2 separate regions of the Homo sapiens genome follow, and region 1 is linked to region 2. The links come from fine-mapping of genetic effects on gene expression. A gene starts in region 2. The other region holds a variant in brackets. All regions are shown on one strand. Distances are from middle to middle.

What was found. PIP is the estimated chance that this variant, and not a neighbour inherited with it, causes the effect. A credible set is the group of variants that fine-mapping cannot tell apart.
Region 1: its variant is the best candidate, but not a certain one, in a credible set for the expression of ICOS in whole blood (INTERVAL, PIP 0.60).

The regions. Positions count from the first base shown.
Region 1 is chr2:203,956,812-203,959,625 of GRCh38, reverse strand. It overlaps ICOS (inducible T cell costimulator), which reads right to left. Exons shown (of 5, transcript NM_012092.4): 4 at 1,743-1,827; 5 at 1-40. The coding sequence ends at 27. Among named protein-coding and RNA genes, the nearest start is that of ICOS, 21 kb to the right of the region's middle. The variant G/A (reference allele first, on the strand shown) is at 1,400.
Region 2 is chr2:203,935,257-203,938,070 of GRCh38, reverse strand. ICOS (inducible T cell costimulator) reads right to left here and starts at 1,308. Exons shown (of 5, transcript NM_012092.4): 1 at 1,199-1,308. The coding sequence starts at 1,256. It overlaps LOC101927840 (a long non-coding RNA gene), which reads left to right. Exons shown (of 4, transcript XR_427213.4): 2 at 683-754; 3 at 1,870-1,963.

The DNA.
Region 1 (2,814 bases), 22 kb before region 2:
TCATGCCTGGGTGCCAGAGTTCCATATTATAGGGTCACATCTGTAACAAAAATTCAGCATAAATTATCTAAATGCTCTCCATGTGCCAGTTCCCTACAAGAAGCTTTCCCCTCTCCATTGCCTTTCATACACACAAACACACACGTGCACACACACACACACACACACACTCACACACACACCATGCAAACTCATCTTTATGCTTCAACACCCAGCACCAGTTCCCCATTTCCAGAGAAGTTTAGCTCTCGACTCCTATAACAGACATTATCTAAACTCATCACTTTGAAACTGTCCACCTCTGATTGCAGCTGCTGCTGGGGCAGAAAGCGCTGCATGGGCTGACTGTTCTAGCACAACAGCCCCACTGCATTTCACTGCTTTTCTGCCTCCAGACTTTCTCTGAAGACTCATCCCAAGTAGGCTCATCCCAAGTAGAGGCACAGCTCAGAGATGAGGGAAAGCTAATGCCCTCCGCAGGCAACCCCAAATCAGTGAGGATGGAGCCAGTGGTTGCCATCCTTCAAGAGAATGATTCTGGGAGGCATCTGTACACTTCTCAGAGGTCCAATGAAGTCAGGCCTCTGTGGCCTGGAGCTGAGACCTTGATAATAATGCGCCCTTCATTTGCTTCTCCTTGTTGGCTGTCTCACTCTCCCTGCCCCCTCACCCCTTCTTCCTGGGATCACCTCCCAAATAAACTACTTGCACCCAAGTCCTTATGTCAGGTTCTGCTTGTGGGGATCCAAACAGCCAGAACACATTAAGCAAAGAGATTGAGAGATCATATATTTTTTAAACAGCAAAGTAATGAAACATAAGCTCTTTGCAAGTGTCAAAGCTAGGTATTAACTGTCTAGGGAACCAAAAGAGTCACTGAACACTTTGAGCATCAATTTCTGTCATCTAAAACATGAAATGTGAACTCAAGGATCCTTTTTAGCTCCCATCCCATGCTATAATTCCATGACAACGCAAGCTATGTGTGTCCCCTTTAGATAATCTGTAGCCACTGAGGGGTGGAAAAATGCAGTGGCTTCTGTCTCATTACACATCGCACATCATTCGAACCTCAAGGGCATAAGACATGAATTTTCCACAATGGAAGCTTCAAACTTTCTGGGTGCTCCTCAAACTTGGCAACTTTCAGTTTTCTGACTCTTAACAGAAAAGGTCAAATTTCCATGTTACTGAGACTTCTAAAGCCATCCAAGTTCTCTAAACTTGCACACTCTTTACCTCAAAATAACCAGATATCTTCATCAATTTCTCCTTCTTCCCTCTAGCAGTACCAGCACAGATCTCTCTTCCTAATCTCAGTCCAAAATTAGCATATATCTGTCCAAATTCCCCAGAGTGCCTCACTCAGTAACTCACACTTAACTGATGCTCAATAAAC[G/A]CTCATTGAATGACTGAATGAACCCTTCAACAAAAAACACTTAGAATCATCCCAACTTTTGAAACATCAATGGGAAAATTGCCTTGATACTATGGTGGTTTATGAGCTGTTTGTGTGTTTAGTTTCAATAGTGGCTTACAAACCTATTGCTTGTTTGTTTTCAATATACTGCAGAAAATATAAATCTAGTTAAAAGTGAGAAATCCAGATTTTCACAGAAAATTCTAGAATTAGGCCTTGGAGATGTTTTCCTTTCCTTTAAAATTAAAAAAAAAAAAATTAACATTCCAGGCTTACTGTGAAGAAACCTCTTCCCTTCCCAAACCCCCAAATGGAGTCATACCTGTGAGTCTAGATTTTTTGGCTGTGTTCACTGCTCTCATGAACATGTATTCACCGTTAGGGTCGTGCACACTGGATGAATACTTCTGAAAGAAAAAGCCAGAAACATGCTTGGTCATCTTTTCTTCTCCATCTCTTTGTTTTTTGACTGTTTTCTATTCTTTGTTGAAGTGGTATGTGACAAAAACATGATAATGTGACTTAGGTTCCTGGCTTTAGGCTAAGTAGAAAAACAATATGAAAAGGGCTTTACATAAAAAGAGCTTTCTACTGAACTTTCTTCCTCGTTTTTGCCTTTATTGTTTCTTTCCCAGCAGACTTAGACCATGGGCGCTATCTCATTCTCTTCCTTCTTTATGTCTCTTTCCAAATTCCACTCTCCCACAGATATACACTGGCCAATGACCACACTGTGGATATACTTGAGTACTAGCATACTCGCGTAATATGCAGAGTGGTGTCAGTTCTTTGATTGAGAACCTGTAATGCAAGAGACCAAAAAGAATATCCCCCAGCACAGGGAGATTTTTGTTGTTGTCATTGTTGTTTATCTTTCTAAATAGCTCCTCAGTGGTTTTCTTTAAAAGCAAGGAGTCTAATAACCTACCATGTAAAAAAGTTGTCAATTTCCTTCTCAGCTACAATTGACACCTTAGAAGGCTTTCTTGCTGACTGTTTTTAACTTACCAGCTAAGCAAAACTTATAACTAATTGTTTCATCTCTGCCCTGCCTCTCAGGAACCTTGGATTCAAATTCGCAGCCCATGCATAATAATTTTTTAAAAATCAGAGTCATCTATTTTGATGTTTTAACCTTCCTCCTGACCTTTAGTCTTCTCTTGACCTCAATTTCCTCATCTAGTTTGAACAATAATAATAATAATGTAACTCTCTGTAAGCCATCAAGTCAAGTCCTCTTTGGAATGTGTGGGCTATAAAACAAATACATAAATTTCTGTTCCAAGTGATTAGTTTAATTAGTAGGTATGTCTTGGGGGGAAGGAATTGTCTCCCTGTTGGTCAAATTACTCTGACAAGAGCCATGTGTACTTTTGATGAGGAAATAATCACTG
Region 2 (2,814 bases):
GGTTTTGCTCATCCTTGTACATACACCATCTGGCACAGTACCTGCTACCAGGCAGGTGCTCAATGCTACATGAGTAAATGGATGAATGAAGAATGAATATAAATTCCAAAGCTGCTCATGTCATTCATGCCGCTAAAGGACTTCATGAGATTCTAGAAAAGGCATAAACCAGCAAGTAGCCCAAAACTGTCCTTGTGCTCATTCTACATTCCTCAATCCTCTTAACTGCACTTAACTCACTTTGAGCCAGCACAAGATGAAACATTTGATCAATTTGATTTCATTTTTTTTTCATTTTTTGTAAGAACAGTAAGGTCTATTTTTTTGCCACTGAAAAAATGTATCCCTAGATAGGATCATACCTACTAAAAGTTCTGCCTTCACTTTTAGTTTATTTGATTATTTAAGTTATTTAATATTACTTAACTTTCCTTTTTTCAACCTCAAGAATAGGGCTCAGTGTGAAAGAGAAAACAAAAGTAGTACAAATTATATACAGTAAAAAGCAGCAGAAACACGTGTATTAACTTACATTGTATGTAGCATTATTTAAATTGTCCATATAGAGTCTGCTATATGCCATTCAAGAGAAGGAATCAGGGACTCCAGAATGATCTTTTTTGTAAGGTCTACAGGGGCTAGGAAGTATTTTTACATTATCCTTTCCTCCTTGGCTTTTTAGGGTGAACTCTGATACTTAGTGTCAATAAAAACTCTATGGTGCCCTGGACATTTCAGATAACAGATCATCCAGGTAAGATTAAAATCAAAATCCTTCTTTTCAAAGACTTCCCATTTTATTTTCTACCACAGAAAGAATTCCCAGTCCAAATGCCAGAGCTATTTAATTTTCATTCTGTTGACACAAGTCATTTTGCCTTTCATCTTTCTCTAAGAACAGTAAGCCACTCTGCTAGTTTATCCACTGACAGGTAACTCCAAGCAGGTAATTTAAAAATTTAATGGTCTGATGAAACATGTTTTTCATCTCAAGACACAGTATCAAAGGCAGCAATGCAAACTCAATGCCATCCACAGTGACATGAGTGACATGGTGCCCTTGGCCATATCCTGAAACTATTCCTACTTTCAAAAACCAAAACCACTGTCTTTTGGGTGCGTAATTTTTCTACCTTTGCTTTTTCTTAATGTTTACTTGAATTATAACTTAATAAGAAATATTCAATACACCACTTACCTGTTAAAACTTTAATGCGCAAGCAGAAGAGAAAGAAATACCAGAGGCCTGACTTCATGTTTGCCAGAAACAGTTAACAGTCCTCGCGTTCAGTGTTCAAAGCTGACAGTGAATTCAGGCTCTCGGTTGTTTTCTATTTGCTGGAAAGGAAGTGGGTTTTCTGGGAGTTTATGTAGTGTCACGCTTACCATCAAATCAAGGGGGTGTTTCTTCTTTGATGCCAATGGCTATATGAAAGGCATTATTGCTTATGACATGAGTTAAACAATGCATGGATTATTGATGATTTTGAAGACAGAGGAAAACATTACCCTTATTCTGGTTCCTATAAAACAAGTTAAAGAGATTATGCCTGTATTTTTCAGAACCACCCTACTTCTCTGAATCAATAGTTATGGGGGTTAACAGGACCTAAAAATACTCACATGATGAATAAAACATATATTTTGACACATTTCTATCTTATGCTAGGTGCTCCAGAGATAAGAAAGCCTTTGAAATAGGACAAGAAACAAACAAAATTATTATAGAAATTGAAGTGAAAAGATCTGAAAGAAGAGCATCATAGGAATCTGAGAAATGATATTTATGTGGCATTCATTGTAGATTGCAATGTTTCAAATGATGGGGTCAGTTTTAAACTAACTTAAACCCTGCTCCTCATATTACAGCAGAGTCTGTAGGAACCAGGGATTCCTCACCTACGGCTCAGTGAGACCAAGAATGTTTAAAAGCCTGCCGTGGTCTCCCCATCCCTGCAGGGAGGTAAAGTAGACAATAACAACAATAACAATAATAATTACATAGATAATTATATGTATATGTACTTAAATGTTTTATATGAAATAATATATCTTAATGCAAAATGTAAAAAATTAAATGTAATATATTTTATATATAAAATATACCTATTTTTATATATGAATATAGCTAATATTACATTTATATTATGTTTTATATGCATGTAAATGGTTACTGTTTGTATATATATTTACATTATAACTATAGTTTATACATACATTAACTCATTTAATCTTCTTAATCATCCCAATGGTGACCACTAATCTCCCATTTTACAGATGAGGAAAACTGAGGCACAGACAGGTAACGAACCTGGCCCAAGTCATATAGTAAGTGTCAGTGCTATGATTTAGAGAGTCTGGCTCCAGAGTCCTCACTCTTAACCGAAGCAGGTAGAACCACCAATACCAAGGCCTGCTGATCCCTCCATCCAGAAGTCTGAACGCGCTTCCAAGATGCTAGATCCAGGCTGGACTTCCCTTAGCCTGCAGAAATGACATTTAGATGAGAAGCTGAAATCAGCTGGCCAGGGAAACCAAGGTGTGAGTCCAAAAGGTCCAGGCTCTGAAACAGATTCCAGGTTTGGGGCTTTAGGCCAGCCACTAGGAATGCCAGACCACAGCCAAGGGGTCTGCAAGGTAAGGAGGAGGCTGATCCTGCAGGGATCCCCCTAGCTGCTGAAGCTTCCCCTAGCTACCTTCTGTAGGGCTCCTGGGTCTCAGCAGTGGGTGTGAAGGAAGCTGTTTGAGGGACTGAGCTAGCCTGAGAAGTAGAGCCTGGGCTGCCAGGACCCCTGGGACCTTGCTACCCCAATC